Linked DNA regions of Homo sapiens: region 2 is linked to region 1. Evidence: fine-mapped expression QTL. Tissue or cell type: whole blood. Region 1 holds a variant in brackets; the other region holds the start of a gene. All regions are shown on one strand. Distances are between the middles of the regions.

Region 1 (8,108 bases):
ATTACCCCCCAAAATCTTTATAATTGTCAGTTTTCAGCAAATATATATTCAGGAGCTGTGTGTCTAGCCATGAGCCTGGCAAGTGGATTACATAGAGCCTGATGCCCAGGGTGGGTGGGGGTGACCCCTGGAGCCTCTCCTTGTCCTCAAGGCTAAGGAGGTATAGGTTGATCTCTTTCAATGCCCTTAGCGGGCTGTGCTCAGTGCCGGAAGCCAGAGTGCGGAGGGAAGGTCAACACTTTCCCTAGCCAGAGACAGAAGGATCAAGAGCTGCAGTTCTCAAATGTTTTGGTCTCAGAATCCCTTTACACTCTTAAAACTTATGTGGTTTATGTCTACCTATAATACATATAAAAATATATAAATATACTTTATTATACAATATAATTATATGTTTACATATATAAATATATCATATATACATATATAAACATAATACATAAAATATAATGTTTATATATAAAATAGGTTATATATTATATAAATCAACTATATACTTATATAAATATATAATATATATTATATGTTTATATGCAAACATATAAATACATAATATATAGACATACATAAATATAAATATATATATATATAGAGAGAGAGAGAGTTTATTTGTTTGAGACAGGGTCTTGCTCTTTCGCCCAGGCTGGAGTGCAGTGACACGATCTTGACTCACTGCGACTCCTCCTCCCAGGCTCAAGCAATCCTCCCACCTCAGCCTTCCAAGTCACTGGGACTACAGGCACATGCCACAATGCCTAGCTAATTTTTGTAATCTTTGTAGAGACGGGGCTTCGTCATGTTGCCCAGGCTGGTCTTGAACTCCTGGGCTCAAGTGATTTGCCAGCCTTGACCCCCCAAAGTGCTGGGATTACAGGCGTGAGCCACCACGCCTGGCCATATGTCTATTTGTATTTATTTATTTATCATTAATTTTTTTGAAACAGGGTCTCACTCTGTCTCCCAGGCTGGAGTACAGTGGCACAATCATGGCTCACTGCAGCCTCAACCTCCCAGCTCAAGCAATTCTCCCACCTCAGCCTCCCAAGTAGCTGGCACTACAGGTATACACTCCCATGTCCGGCTAATTTTTGAATTTTTTTGTAGAGATAGAGTTTCACCATTTTGCACAGGCTGGTTTTGAACTTCTAAATTCCAGTGATCCACTTGTTCGGCCTCCCAAAGTACTGGGCTTACAGGTGTGAATAACTGCACCCGGCTATATTTATCACAGCAGAAATTAGTATGTTAGTATGGAAATTGTTTGACCTTTCCAACCCCCTGAAGGGGTCTCAGAGACCTTCAGCTTTTCCCGGACCACACTCTGAGAACTGCTGCTCTGGCATTGCGCTGCCCAGACTTTGCTGTGCCCACATGACACCTGGAATCATGCTAAAATGCAGGTTCTAATTCAGTAGCTCTGAGGTACATAGTAAGACCACACTGCTGACAAGTTTCCAAGGGATGCTGATGCTGCTGGCGCTTGGGCTCCACTTCGAACAGCAAGGCCACAGAGATCGGAGGACAAAAAGTTCATCTTTGGCTAGTGTGCTCTTACATCCGGCCTTACAAATTGGACAATTTAATTTAAAATGGTGGACATGGGTAGAAAGGCCATGCTGAGTGGCGAAGATGGCATAAGCAAAGGTACATATGTAGGAAAATGCAACTTCAGCCGAAGTGTAGGTTCATAAAAACCCCAAGCTGCCCACTGCTCCAACCCCTAGGCTATGTGTAGCTATGTGTAGCTTCCAGTCCAGGCAGAGAAGCCACTGGTCTCAGCATCTCAGGGAAAGGGGTATGAGACCTATCCCCATCCAATACCATGATCAACAAACATCTATGAGTACCAGCAAGAAACAAGTAACTCCAGTGGACCTCAGCTAGCCTTAATTTTCCATCATCCATCCTCACTTCAATTTTCCCTTGGGAGTCATCATTTTTCCACATTCAGTCTAAGTAGTTTGGGTGGAGTTGACCCAAGGTAAGAACAAGATAAGAATCAAAGCACAACTCCCTCTGGCCACAGTGATGAGTTCAAGAATGGGCACAGGACCCAAAGGAGGCCACTGAGAGCCTTCCTGGGCCTTCTCATGGTTTTACAGAGAGACCACATGAGGAGGCCACCTAGAGAGACATGCCCAAGGGGTCCCAGCTGTCTGAGTCTTCCCAGCCCAGGCTCCAGACACATGAGTGAAGAAGCTTCCCAGATGACCTCAGCCCCAGAACCACCTGACTACAAGTGTCTGAGGAACCCTAAGCAAGAACTGCCTCACGGAGCCCAGTTGACCCTCGGATTCAAAAGCAGAATAAATGTGTGTTGCTTCAAGCCACTGTTTTGAGCCATTATTAGTATGCAATAATGGCCAGAACTGGGTCTGTTTGGCTTACCTATTAATTCCAGGGCTAAAATACCAGGAAACAAATCAAAGGCCAGGACAAAGACGCCACTGCACAAAGAACAAGTTCCCCAACTGTCTTTGCTTTGGACCAGCATGTTGGTTGTAGATTTTGTCAACAAGCTCTCACTGTGTAGCAGCCATCAAATAAGCTTTTCATGAGAATTAAGCCAAACAGTCCAGGCTGCAGTGGGAGCAGAATGAGCTTTCCATAAAGTTTGGTGGTCTCCATGATAACACAGGACACTGCTCGTTCACTGATGTTGTACTCGCTCAATTAGTTTCTTCATCTCAGATTGTAAAATCTGGATGGAAGGAGACATTTCTAATACTTCTTCAGGGTTCCAAAGCCTGTGGTAGACTGTAAGACACATACTGGGTGCTTGATAGACATTTGTCAACAGCTTGCCTGATTTAAATCTGGGCCTTATATTTCACATGGGGAGGCCATGGAAGCCCACAAAGCAAATGGAGGGTCACATTGGCCAACGGTTTTCTCTGATGGTACAGAGGTAAATGTCCACAAAAAATATTGGGTAGTAGAGGAAGACAGTTGACAACCCTTACATAACCTCCAAAGGTCTTAGAGAGCACAGAGTTGGAGTTGATAGACCAGGATTGAAATCCTGACTCAGCCATCAGGAAGCTGGAGGCATTCGGTGAGGCCCAGCCCCTACAAGTCTCAGCTTCCTTATCTGTAAAGTGGGAGTAACAGTACCTAGAAGATTGTGGTGATTAAGTGAGACATTCAATATAAGGCATATGTTGACATGTGGCAGGCACTCTGTAAATAGAAATCATCATTGTTATCATTAGCTGCACATTTGGGAATAAAACTCCTGGCTTACTTACTTTACATGGCAGTTTTGTGGATCAAGGGAGAATAGACAGAATGATGCTTTAAAAATATTAATAAAGTTCAATGTCAATAAAGTTATTAAAAACCAGAGTAAGGTCTAAATCATCTGACATAAATATCCCTTCTGTTTGCACATGCAAAGCAGAATGCAGAATGTGAGAAAAAAGAGTTGGGGAAAACCCAAAGCAAGAGGCACATCACTGATCCACTCACACAGAGCTGGAAAGAACCTTTAAAATCACCCAATTCACCTCGTTTTTCAGGAAGGGAACTAGGGCAGAGAGTGCCGCTGCATGGATGAGGCCACACAAGCTAGCAGGCAGGACCAGGAAGGGAACTCCCAACCCACATGCCCAGTCTGGTGCCCTTTTCACTATTTATCACCTTTCTGGCTTGCATTTGCTGTGTGATAATCTAGGTATCTGCCCATCAGAACATTCTTAAGCAGACACTGGATGCAACTGAAAAGTAAACAAATGCCAGATCAGTTTCATCGTTGGAACATTTCCTCACTTCCTGGCAGTTGCGGAGAAAATGCCTCTGGGGTATCTTTCTCTAATTTTCTTTCTCAATAATGGTATAAAAATGGTAACGAATGCTAAGGAGGAGTAATGTGTCTTGGGGAAAATTTAGCTTCTACAAGCTGGTTTTCCGTCCACCCTACAAAGTCACTGAGCTCTGGGATGCTGGCTTTCTAAGTCTGGCTGAAGCTCAACCATGAGGCCAAGTGCCCAGCTTTGACAAAGAAAGCTCTTCAACACTGGAAGAAAGATCGTCAATGTTGGTGTCTGAGTTTCTCTGTTATAATGAAGTGTTCAATGTTTTAAACACTGCTGCAATGAATGTAATGGTAGATTTAAAAGCTTTTTTTTTTTTT[A/TA]AATTGAGATGGAGTCTTGCTCTGTTGCCCAGGCTGGTGTGCAGTGGTGCAATCTTGGCTCACTGTAACCTCCGTCTCCTGGGTTCAAGTGATTCTTCTGCCTCAGCCTCCCGAGTAGCTGGGACTGCAGGAACGTGCCACCACACCCGGCTAATTTTTTGTATTTTTTTTTTGGTAAAGATGAGGTTTCGCTGTGTTAGCCAGGATGATCTCAATCTCCTGACCTCGTGATCCACCTGCCTTGGCCTTCCAAAGTGCTAGGATTACAGGCATGAGCCACCGCGCCCAGCCTTAAATGCTATTTTAATTTCTTGCATATAACGAGGCTGTCTTTTATTCTCTGGTTACCCAGGTTTGAAAGCCCAGTCACCTCTGACCTGCCTCTCTGCTTTGAGCTCCATGTGCTTTGGCCATCAAATCTTACCAAATCATTCTTTCTCTCCATCCCCATAACACTGGCCTGTAGCAGCCCTCATTCCTTATGACCACCATAGCCTCCCACTGGGATCTCAGAATCCAGGCCTTCTGCCCAACCCCAAATCCTTCCTGGGCACAGCCCCTGATTCACCTTTTACAAATGCCCCCTAGGTCTGTCACTCTGGGGCTCCCCTCATCCACAGGCAAGTCTTAGCCTGCCTTTATCTCTCTCCTCTTTCATTCCTGCTCTATCTCCCTCCATCCTCTGAAACAAAAACTAATTTGTTGTTCCCTCCGGATTGCATGCTGTTCCCTGCATTTGAATGCCTTTCTCCCACCTCAACTCATCGAAATCTCAACCAATCTTCAACTCCTAGGCAAATGCTACTGCTTCTTTCATGAATTCTCTGCTCCTTACTCCAGCCAGACATCACGTGTCCTTGTTCCCTTGTCAGGCTTCCCTCCCATAACCTCAGATCAAGCCACCACATTGCTGTAACCATGCACTTCCTGGTATCTATGTCTTTGCTTGTCACAGTGCCCCTCCCAGAAGACATATTCTCTTAGGGCAAGGAAGATATTTCATTCTCTCCCCCCAGCAAAACAAAGCATTTTGTTTTCCACGTTCCATAAGCTTAATAATTATTTGTGAATTGAATGAAAAGAAAAAACATAATACAACTACTCACCTGTTTTGGGGGGCTTTTTTTGTTTTTAACGGAGTGCCTTCCAAGAGCTGAGGATTGGATTTATTAATTCTGATTTTTTACTGGATATCAATTTGAAAATCAAAGGCTGTCCCCATGCCTCAGTTTCCTCATCTGTGACCACAGGTCAAGAATAATTCTTCCTAACCTACTTTACCAGGCTACTTATTTTCACCTAAAAGGTGGCAATATTATGCTTGTTTTGTTTTGTATTGTGTTCTACTTTTAAGCAGGCTAAATAAACAGAGACCTGGAGGATTCTGTTTGGAAGAGAAAGACGATGGGCCCCTTACTTGGAGTTCATTGCCAACCCACAGAAGAGAGACGGGTTCTCTCACCAACCAGAAAAGAAACAGCTGTGGTGACAGATGTTGGTGGTGCTGATTATTCCAGGGCTGTTTGCATTCAGATTTCCCAGGCATTCTCGGTTTTCTGAAGTCAATCTCTTTTGATGGGTTTTCCCAGGTCTTGGGGGTGAAAACAAACCGCTCCTCTTGCCGCACGCATTTCATTTATTTCCTCTCTCTACTCCAGAAACACACAGATAAAGGACACCCACCCAGCACACGCACTCCCCACACCCACGTGGCCTCACGTTTCGTTTTGAACATAAATGGCCTGGGGGAGAGAAACCTTTTCACTCCTCCTTAGGTTGCTTTTTGGTTTTGTAGGTATGTGTGTTGGAGAGGTGGGGGGAGAGGTCTGGCCAAAGTACATCCAAGGCCAGTTTCTCCAAAAGATGTGGAAACTTCTGATCTCACCCAGGGACTTCAACAGAATACCAAAAAGGGGTGTCTTTGTTTCCTCCAAATGGAGTATTTACTTTGAGCTGGTAAAATGAATTAATGAAAAGAAAGGACACCTTCAGCTTCTGGGGAAGGAGTGATAAGTAAAATCAGAGGAGGGGATTCCTTCTTACCCTGACTCCCCAAAATCAAGGGGAGGATGGAGGATGGTGAGAGAGGGAGGATCCCACAGGGTATTCAAAAATAGACCCTGCTAGAAAACAGGCTGCTCTTTTCTGGGATTAAAAGTTGCCTCAATACTGTAAGGCCCATGTATATGCAAGCAGTTGGGAGTTATTACGGGCCTAAAATAGGAAACCATTCGCTTGATCTTTCGCTTCAATCCTATTAGGGGCCCCCTGGAGCTCGAGAGAGATACCAGCCTGTCATGTCCCTGTTGCTGTGACGACCCTGTCTTTATAGAACAAGAAAGAGAAATGGTAGTGATTGGCAGACCTTGCTTGCCCCGTATGTAACACAAAGGGCGACAAAACGAAGAGGAAGTGAGGCCCTTCTCCGAGGTCTGACGCTTCTTAACCCTACACTACCTTCCACCTGGTCCCAGTCGCCCCCACCCCGACCTCCTCCAGAGGGAAAGGAGAGACCACTGGCCGTTAAGTGCTAATACCCAAAGATCACGAATGACTTTTTTGGGTCTAATTGCGAGTAATTTTTAAAGTCCGTCTTTGATCGACTTGGACGGGAGAAAATATACGGGAGGGGCTGGAAGCGAAGATGGGGGCTGCTCAGGCGACGCTGCCAACCGGGCGCTGTTTGCGGGGCGCTGGGCGGGGCGGCCGGGCCTGACAGACCCCCACCATCTGGTGCCAGACTCCAACCCGCCGGTCGTAAATAACCGCCTCCCTTTTCGGGCTTTCTCGCCCGGCTCCTCCGATTCCCGCTAAAGTGGGAAAAGTGTAAAATGCTGTTTGCGTCCTTTTTTCTCCGCTGTGTGCGCGGGAAGGAGGAGAGCGGCCTGCAGTGGCGGACGCGGGGCCGGGCCACCCCCCAAAACCTGGCGCCCGGCGGGGCGGCCCGCAGAGCCAGGCGGCAAAGGCCGCGCCCCGGGCCGAGCTCTCCGCCCGGCGCCCGGTCCCATTAGGGGCTGTTTATTGCAAAGTAAAACCAACCTATCGCAGCGGCGAAGGCACTTTGTCTCTGCCGGGTCCCTTTCGGAAAACCGGTGACCCGGCGGCCCGGCGCGTCTCGGGGCGGGGGCAGCACAGCGTGCACGGTCCTCTCCAAGCGTTTTGCTGGGGACAAGTGCCTTTCTCTGAGGTTTACAACTCGCCCCGGCTCTGCTCAGGCGCCCACGGTAGCCGGAACTGGGCTGCAGCCTCCCCAGATCACACTAAACCCGAGCCGTTGCGAGGCCCCGGGTTGCCCAAAGATTGACAACGATCAGGAGCTAAGTCTGCTTTCCGGGGACCTCGTGGGGAGCTCTGTGCCCAGCACTTTTCTCTCGGACTCTCTGCTGGGGGAGAGAAAGAAAAGAAAAAAAAAGAAAAAGAAAAAGAAAAAGAAAAGTTTCTTTCGGGGGAAGCAGTGAAACAGGAAATGAAGATTCGCTCTGTAGTTTAGCTGAAAGGAAACGCTGTCTAATCCTGACATGTATCGCATTTAAAATAAAATTCTTTTATCTTCATGCGTGCCAAGCCCCCAGACATTGTTCGGACTCCTACGGGGGGAAAGACGTCATAAAATGAGAATTTGTTTCATTGTGGGTCGCTCTGCCAACACCGGGCTTTAAAGGAACGCCAAACAAAGCGGGCGCCAGGAGGGGGCTTCCCAGGTGAGCCCGAGACGGGATCGAAACTCCTCTCCAGTCCACGAAAACGCCCAAGAATAAGTTGTTGAGTAAAACCCACCCGTCCTCCTTGTAAACCCCCCAATTTCCTTTCCAAAACCCCATCCCTCTCCCAAATAAATCACGAGCGGCTCTCTTCCCATGCCAAGCGCCCTTGGCTTCACAATAAGCCCGGAAGATTTTAAGCAACGATATTGAGGTTTGGGAAGAGGGAGCGTGGGGCGTGGGATTCGCTGCTGCCCTGGGTTCAGTGTTCTTGG
Region 2 (8,108 bases), 410 kb after region 1:
CCTTAAAAACTCATTATAAGTAGTCATTTTTCTTCCCACGCCAATCACTATCAAAGGCTCTTCATGTTACTAGAGATAGACTGTAAAGGAAGGGCAACAACCCACTTGCCTGGCTGACATACACTGGACTGTGCCTTGGCTATCAGGGATGAGGGTGGGAGGAAAGGCAGGGCTTCTTCCCACCCTCATTTCTACATTCACAACTTTCATGTGGCCCCAACTACCTTTTCAGTCCTACCTCTCACTTCTCTTTTCAATGTTCGACTCTGGGTCAAATGGATTAACCACATGCTGTGTTTATATAAAACTATATGGCAATTAGTGATGTTTGAAAAGAACTTAGACCACAACCCAGGACTCTCTGTAGCTCAGTACTGGTCTCCTCCCTGTACCTGACGGCCACCCTTCCAGGAAAGAGTCAACTTTGTAGGACCTACATGTTCAAAAGCCACAGATATCTTCAGCTGGTCTCCATGGCTTATTTTGTTTTCCCTGGAATAGTTCCTAAAATGTACCCATAAGGTGGTTGGGTGTGGTGGCTTCTGCCTGTAATCCCAGCACTTTGGGAAGCCGAGGTGGGAGGATCACTTGAGCCCAGGAGTTCAAGACCAGCTTGGACAACACAGTGAGACCCCATCTCATAATAAAACAAACAAACAAACAAACAAACAAAAAACCCATAAGGTTAAAACGCCCAGCATTGTGATTCAATGCTTGGGAGCAGAAATAATACCACTTCCTGGGGCATACTCAAAACAAGAATTGTGAAGGCAATAATTTTAGAACAGGATTACAATGACTTCTGTGTGTAGGCATCATGAAGACAGTAATGCATGTTTGGAAAAGTTCAAAGTCCCTTTCTAAATAAAACCCTTATTTCAGGTAAAATACATGAATAGGATGTTCCAACTCAGGGGCTGGCAAACTTTCCGCAAAGGGCCAGATAGTAAATAGTTTAGGCTTTGCAGGTCATATGATCTCTGTTGCCATAAACACAACCAAATAGGCATTGCTATGACCCAGTAAAACTTTATTTACAAAAACAGGTAGAAGGAGGGATAGTTTGCTGACCCCTATCTTATCCTACCTTGATATCTCTGCTTATACAAATCTCAATTATAATGTCCATTCTTTCATCCGAGCTTACTGAAATTCCATCATCTTCAAAAAACATTCCTTCCTTTTCCTCCTGCCATTCTTAGCACTTGGAAATTAATGTTCCATTTATTCAGAAGTTTCCTACTTTATATACTTTGTAACTAATATTCCTTTCAAAGGGAGGAATTTATGGAAGGAAAATGGGAAGAATCAAGCAGGAAAAAAGGTAACTTAAAAAGAAGAGAAAATTTCTAGAATTCTAAGGAGAGTCTTTTCTGAGAGAGGTTTTCTTCAAGGTTAGTGAAATTAAAAATATATTCCTCAATATTTTGAGAAAAGTTGAAATGGACTCCCCGCTTCTGCCAATAAAATGTTTCCATTAGCTACCAGGCTAATCTCTAACATACTGGTGAGTACAGGGAATTCTCATGTCATGTGCACACAATAGTAATAGAAAGAGGAACAATAACCGTCTGTGAAAAACTAAATGGCTGAAGTTCAAAGATAATAAATACCTACCAGGCTCAGCATCATTCACCATTTTTCTCTTTTTCTTCTTTTTCTTTTTTGATTCTGAATTGGAAGACTGCATTGCTGCTTCTCCATTGGTTAATACAGTGGATTTCTGGGGAGACTTTGTAACTTTTATATTTCCCACTGCTTCTTGAGACATGCCTCCATTTTGAGTTTCTGATAAGCCCACATTCATGGGCTTTTGTTTTGATTTTTTAACCTTTCTACTTCCCATTGTTTCTTCAGATACATCTCCATTTTGAGTTTCCGATAGGGTCAGATTTGAGGCCCCTGTTTAAATAAACAGAACATATACTGTGACAAAGAAGGAGAAGTTTACTTAGAAACACTGAAATCCCAAATGAGAACTTCCATGGCTTCCTGACACAAATTATTTAGATTTTCTTCTCTTTCATGTAATTAAAACAACTTATAGTTTTATGGTGTTCCCTTATAGGGAAAGTAAGTTATCTTAAAGAAAAAATACTGGAAAAGGGAAAGCTATATTGATTTCTTAACTGCAAAAGACCGTACATCTGACTTTAAGGAGTCTAGGACAGGAAAACTTCAATGAGGTCAAATATTTAAACAGATGAGGTCAGATAATGGCAGTTACAGAATAAACATAAGTATTTGATAAACATATGATTAACTGATATATTGAAAAAGACATTTACAACTCATTCACACAAGTACTATTTTTCATACCACTTCAAAACATTCAACCCCAACTCTTCTAGACTGCAGTGAGTTGAAAATTCAGTTGATAAGACCACTTATTTGCTCCAATATTTATCATATGCAAATACAGTAATGCGTGCACAATGACATTTCTGTGAATTAAGGACAACATATACAGTGGCTCCATAAGATTATAACGGAGCTAAAAAATTCCTATCACCTAGTGCCATCAGTAACTGCAATGTCGTAGTGCAACATATTACTCATGTTTGTAGTGATGCTAGTATAAACAAATCTACTGTAATGCCAGTCGTATAAAGTACAGCACACATAATTATGTACAATACATAATACGTGATAATAAACTATGTTACTTGTTTATGTGTTTACTATACTTTTGATCATCATTTTAGAGTTTACTCCTTTTACTTATTAAAAAAAAATGAGTCGACTGTAAAAGAGCCTCAGGGAGAGAGGTATTTTAGAAGGCACTGTTATCATAGGAGATGACAGCTCCATGCCTATTGTTGCCCCTGAAGATCTTCCAGTGGGACAAGATGTGGAAGCGGAAGACAGTGAAACTGAATGTGTCTGTGTCTTTACATTTTTAACAAAAAGCTTAAAAAGAAAAAAAAATAAAATAAAAATCACATAGAATAAGGACAAAAGGAAACTTTTTGTACAGCTGTATGTACAATGTGCTTGTGTTGTAAGCTAAGTGTTATTAAAGTCAAAAGGTTAAAATTTAACAAGTTTATAATGTAAAAGTTACAGCAGGCTAAGGTTAATTTAAGAATAAAAGTATTAAAAAACTCAACAGTGTAGCCCAAGTGTACAGTGTTTATAAAGTCTATAGTGTACAGTAATGTTCTAGGCCTTCACATTCACTCACCGCTCACTGACTCGCTCAGGGTAACTTCCAGTCCTGCAAACTCCATTCATGGTAAGTACTGTATACAGAGGTACCATTTTCTAAATCTCTCATGTCATAGTCTTTTTACTGTACCTTTTCTATGTTTAGATATATTTAGCCATACATACACTTACCATTGTGTTACAATTCTCTGAGTATAGTACAGTAACATGCTGTACAGGATGACAGCTTACGAGCAACAGGCTATATCATGTAGCCTGGGTGTGTAGTAGATTTAGGTTTGTGTAACTAGATAAAGTTCGCAAAACGACAAAAGCCCCTAATGACACATTTCTCACAATGTATCCCCCCTCCTGTTATGCGATGCATGACTGTACCTGAGAATGTCCTTACCAAAGGTTCCCTGTTTGTTTACTGAAAAAGATAAAACACCATCTTTTGTTCAAATTTACTTACATATGCGCTGAAAAGTAGTAATGCTGTAGTATTATTCTATAGGAATTAGAAATACAAGAGTATTTCAAAACATATTCCTAAAATTCACAAACCTATTGCCTCCTGCAGAATTTTTTTTCAATTAATGTCTGTTGAAAACCAACTGGGGCAAGGCACTGTGCCTCCAAACTTTCCCTCGGGGAGTTTGTATCTTAACCTGGACAACAGGTTAACACAATTACTTCAAGATCTGTGGCCCCACTGTCAGGACACTGGGACTGCAAATGAGGTAGGTAAGAAAGGTGACATTCAGATAAAATCCTTTTCATTTAGGTCACTGTGCGGGACACAAATACGTAGAAGCTCTGGTGAGAAAGTGCTACGAGAACGTGTGGAAGTGGGTAGAGGAAGGCAATAGTATCAAAGAAGCTCTGTGGAAACAGCCAGACGGGCTTTTGGGGAAAGAAATACGGGAATTAAATAGATGTGAAAAGTGGGTGGAAATGAGACGTTTCATGCAGCATAACCGGAAATGAGGGATGAGGTGAGGTGCGACTTGCAGGTGGTGAGGGAACCAAAAGCTAAGGTGGAAATGCAAAAGGCAGGGTTAGTCGTAAGCCTAGAAGTGAACGGGGAGTCCTCCCGCTCTAACGTTGTAAGAAGACACTGATTGCTCAGAAAGGTCAGGAGCAGCGCTGGAGCCACGCGACGAGTGGGCAGCAGCGCGGGTCCCGAGTGGAAGCTGCCTTTTCACTCTCCCCAATCACACACGCTGCAGGGGAAGCTGCCTCCGTCACACAGAGCAGCTGGGCCCCCGGCCGCCCGAACGCGCCAGGGCTCGCGCGTGGGTCTTCTGAGCCACCGCGAGTCAACGCATCTCACCCTGAAACTTTAGGTTCCGCTGCCGCAATTTGAGGTTCCGCTTCTCGATCTTCTTACGCAGGAGTTTCATCGGCAGGTGTGACATTCTGCCCAACAAGTGCCTAGAATAAGGCGCCACACAGTACAGCTACTCAGTTCTCAGGCTGACGTTACTTCCCTTCCGGCCGCACGTGCGCAGCTCGGCCAACAGGAAACGCGTCACAGGAACGCTGGCACCCGGCGGAACGAAAATGCTCCAGAGCGGAAATGCTTCCAGACGCGCGCACCGTGATATCTTTGGCGACCAAAATCTTTGCAGCGCCCCCTGGAGAAGTGGAAGCGAGACGCTGCACTGGCTTCACACTGTGCTAAAGCTAACTTGAGCTCCCCCTAGAGGAAGACTGAAGAAAGAACGTGGAGGGGAAGGAGGCCTTAGGGAGTCCGCATTTTTATGTTCCTATCCTCTGTGGGTGCAGAACTAGAGTTGGCCCTCCCTGTACCTGAATTCCCTGTCTGTGGATTCAACCAACTCCCCCATTGAAAACATTAAAAAAAAAACAATTAAAAATAATACAGTGTGATAACTACTTTCATAGCATTTAGGTTGTATAAGGTATTATAAGTCATTTAGAAATGATTTAAAGTATACAGGATGTTGTGTGTAAAATAAATGCAAATATTACACTATTGTATATAAGGGTTTTGAGTATCCTAAGATATTGGTACCCATAGAGGGTCCTGGACTCAATCCCTTGTGGATACTGAGGGACAACTGTATTTGGGAAACTGAATAGAACTAAATTATATATATGCATTTCCAAACTTGTTTGGCCACTCTCCTCAGAAATACAATTTCTGTGTCACTTGGTACACATACACACATAAATATAACATTTCTCAAAATAATATTCTTGCTTTTCACTCTTTTTCCTTCAATTCCATTCATTCCATCCTAAATTATTCTTTTTAGCTTACTAAAAATACTGATTCCTATGAATTTAAATTAACTTTACTACATTAATAATAGGTTGACTGCAGTTTGAAAAAGAGGTTTATATATTCCTTAAGTATACCCAAGGACCCTTCAGCAGTCCAGGACAGAAATTGCAATGTGGCTAGCTAATAGTCATCTCTTTTTTGGGATGGGGAGGAAGACAGGGGTATGCATATAGTATTTAATTTTTAAAAAAATTGTTATCAACATTAAAATACTTGGAGATTTCCATAAAAATTCATATTTGTCTTTAAAAATTGGCCCAATGCCCTCAAATTCCCCTTAACAGTAATCAATTTGAGCTGAACAACTGGAAGAGTCCATGAAACCTGGATTAATTTGTTTACTTGGAGGGGCAGAACATGAGACCCTGGAGATTAGACCTGATCATAGTGAGGAACAGAGAGGGAGAAAACTTGGGAGGGAGTTTAAACAGAATGTGAAGGAATTGACTTCGAAATCACATTGGATTGGACTGGAAAACTAAGACAAACAAATAATAATGTGCTTAGATTAATTTGTTAATGATCAGGCAGGCTGAAGAATGATTCAGAAATGTAAGAGCGCACACACACACGCAAACATTTATCTCAGTGTAAATATATATGCCAGTTTAAATTTATGCATATATCAGTATATATATGCATATACACATATGTATCTATTTCTATAGCTCTATGTACATACATATATATTTACCTGATTACATGTGTGAGTTTTGGGTCTGTGACTTTGAAATAGATACAACTGAAGTATATATAGAAAGTGCTCAAAATTTGTTATTTCTTTTATGTTGTAACTTAAATTTGTGGGGCTATGTTTTGGTAGTAGTAATGGAAAGGTACTCCCTTTTTTCTAGAGTGTGACTTTTTCTAGCTAGTAGTGAAGATTGGCAGTCATTTCCTCAAAACCAAAAAAACCCACATTTACGAGGTGTTTAAGACATTTAGATCAGAGAAGCCGATCCTTTCAGGTGCATGGAAATGCTTAACGTTAGGGATTGATAACCTTTTAAGAAACATAGATAAAGCTACTGATGCCAATTCTTCTGGATTTTTAGAAGAAGAATGAGAAATTATAACTTCAAATCAACTCTCAAAATTAGGGTTGAGAGTTATTTTTAACAGAGTGAATTTCCAAGGCCACATCATCAGTTACTCTAGCAAAGAAAACAATGTCATTGGGTTAGCTACTCAAAAATTACCTGTGAGGATGAGGTAACAATCACGTGCTTCTGAAAAGCCTGTTGTTCTTCACAGCTGGAGCCTATCCCAGTATCTATTCAGAATGCGTTTCAGTCTTTAAAACTTCTTGCTTGGGCTCTCCATCACAGAGGTCTCTCTCTTCAGAATATGGTCATTCGCCATAAAACAATCGCATAATATAGTCATTATGCAACTATTTTTTGAGCATTTTTGTGCTAAGAGTGTGTGGTAGGCATGTGCCAAATCCTGGGTATAAAATGGTGGACAAGATAGACCTGGCTCGCCTAGGTGGAGCTTACAGAGCTTACAAGGAAGACAGAAAATTAAACGATTATGGTAAACTATGATGAATGCAGTGAAAAGGAAGCACATCACAGGAGCAACATCCTAGCCTTGGGAAGGGGTCTGGGGATGGAGTCTGTCATTCAATATTCATTATGCATAGGGACTGAGCCAGCAGCAGGCAGAAGCAGGAAGGGAGTTGCTGTCTTTTTTTTGTTGGTTTGTTTGTGTGTTTTGAGACAGAGTTTTGCTCTTGTTGCCCAGGCTGGAGTTCAATGGCGCGAACTTGGCTTACCGCAACCTCCGCCTCTGGGTTCAAGTGATTCTCCTGCCTCAGCCTCCCAAGTAGCTGGGATTACAAGCATGCACCACTATACCCAGATAATTTTGCATTTTTAGTAGAGACAGGGTTTCTCCATGTTATTCACGCTGGTCTCGAACTCCTGACCTCAGGTGATCCATCCGCCTCAGCCTCCTAAAGTGCTGAGATTACAGGCATGAGCCACCGCACCTGGCCAGGAGTTTCTGTCTTTTACCTCCTGACTAAAAATAATTAAGTTTAACATAGAACAGGTCTTATTCATGCTGTTTTGTTTTTCAGTTTTCACTTGAGATCCTTAAACCTGAGACAAGTGTTTGTAAAATAAAACGCAGATTTGTGTAGTTTGTCATTCAAATTAAAAACGTCCCACTTCACTGGGAAAAGAAATCAATCTATTTCACCAACATCATAGAATTGTGAGCCAGAAATAACTGACTCATCCTCTCGGATCACTGCATTAGGACTCTTGAAGTGATTTTCTAGGAACTTTCAAATGCTATTTTCTATAAGGTTAACCACTCTGTTGTGTATTGGAACTTAAAAAGTGCTATGTTATTGTAAATAAGCATGATGTTGCCTCCTTCACATTACCTGACTTTCCTGGACCAGCATCTGGTTCTGTGTATTTCTACATTGTAGAAAGCAGATGGCTGGTACTTAAGAAAGGTTTTCTTCAGTGAACTGATGGACATAAGAGTGAGAGATTATTTTAAAGAGCATCACCACAATTCATGACAAGTCATTATTGCAGTGGTCCTAGGAGCTGGAGAGGATACAGAAACATATAACAGAAACTTTTCTGTCAAGAAGTTTATTCATTTATTAATTTAAAAAAATACCATC

The links. PIP is the estimated chance that this variant, and not a neighbour inherited with it, causes the effect.
Region 2: it holds the start of DDX18, and the variant in region 1 is fine-mapped to the expression of DDX18 in whole blood (INTERVAL, PIP above 0.99).

Annotation. Positions count from the first base shown.
Region 1 is chr2:118,223,505-118,231,612 of GRCh38, reverse strand. LOC105373578 (a long non-coding RNA gene) reads left to right here and starts at 5,025. Exons shown (of 5, transcript XR_923249.3): 1 at 5,025-7,833. RefSeq lists a silencer at 7,018-7,067. The variant A/TA (reference allele first, on the strand shown) is at 4,133.
Region 2 is chr2:117,811,238-117,819,345 of GRCh38, reverse strand. DDX18 (DEAD-box helicase 18) reads right to left here and starts at 4,655. Exons shown (of 14, transcript NM_006773.4): 1 at 4,484-4,655; 2 at 1,618-1,902. The coding sequence starts at 4,568. RefSeq lists enhancers at 3,798-4,333, 4,409-4,458, 4,479-4,528, 4,659-4,788, 4,334-4,871 and 1 more.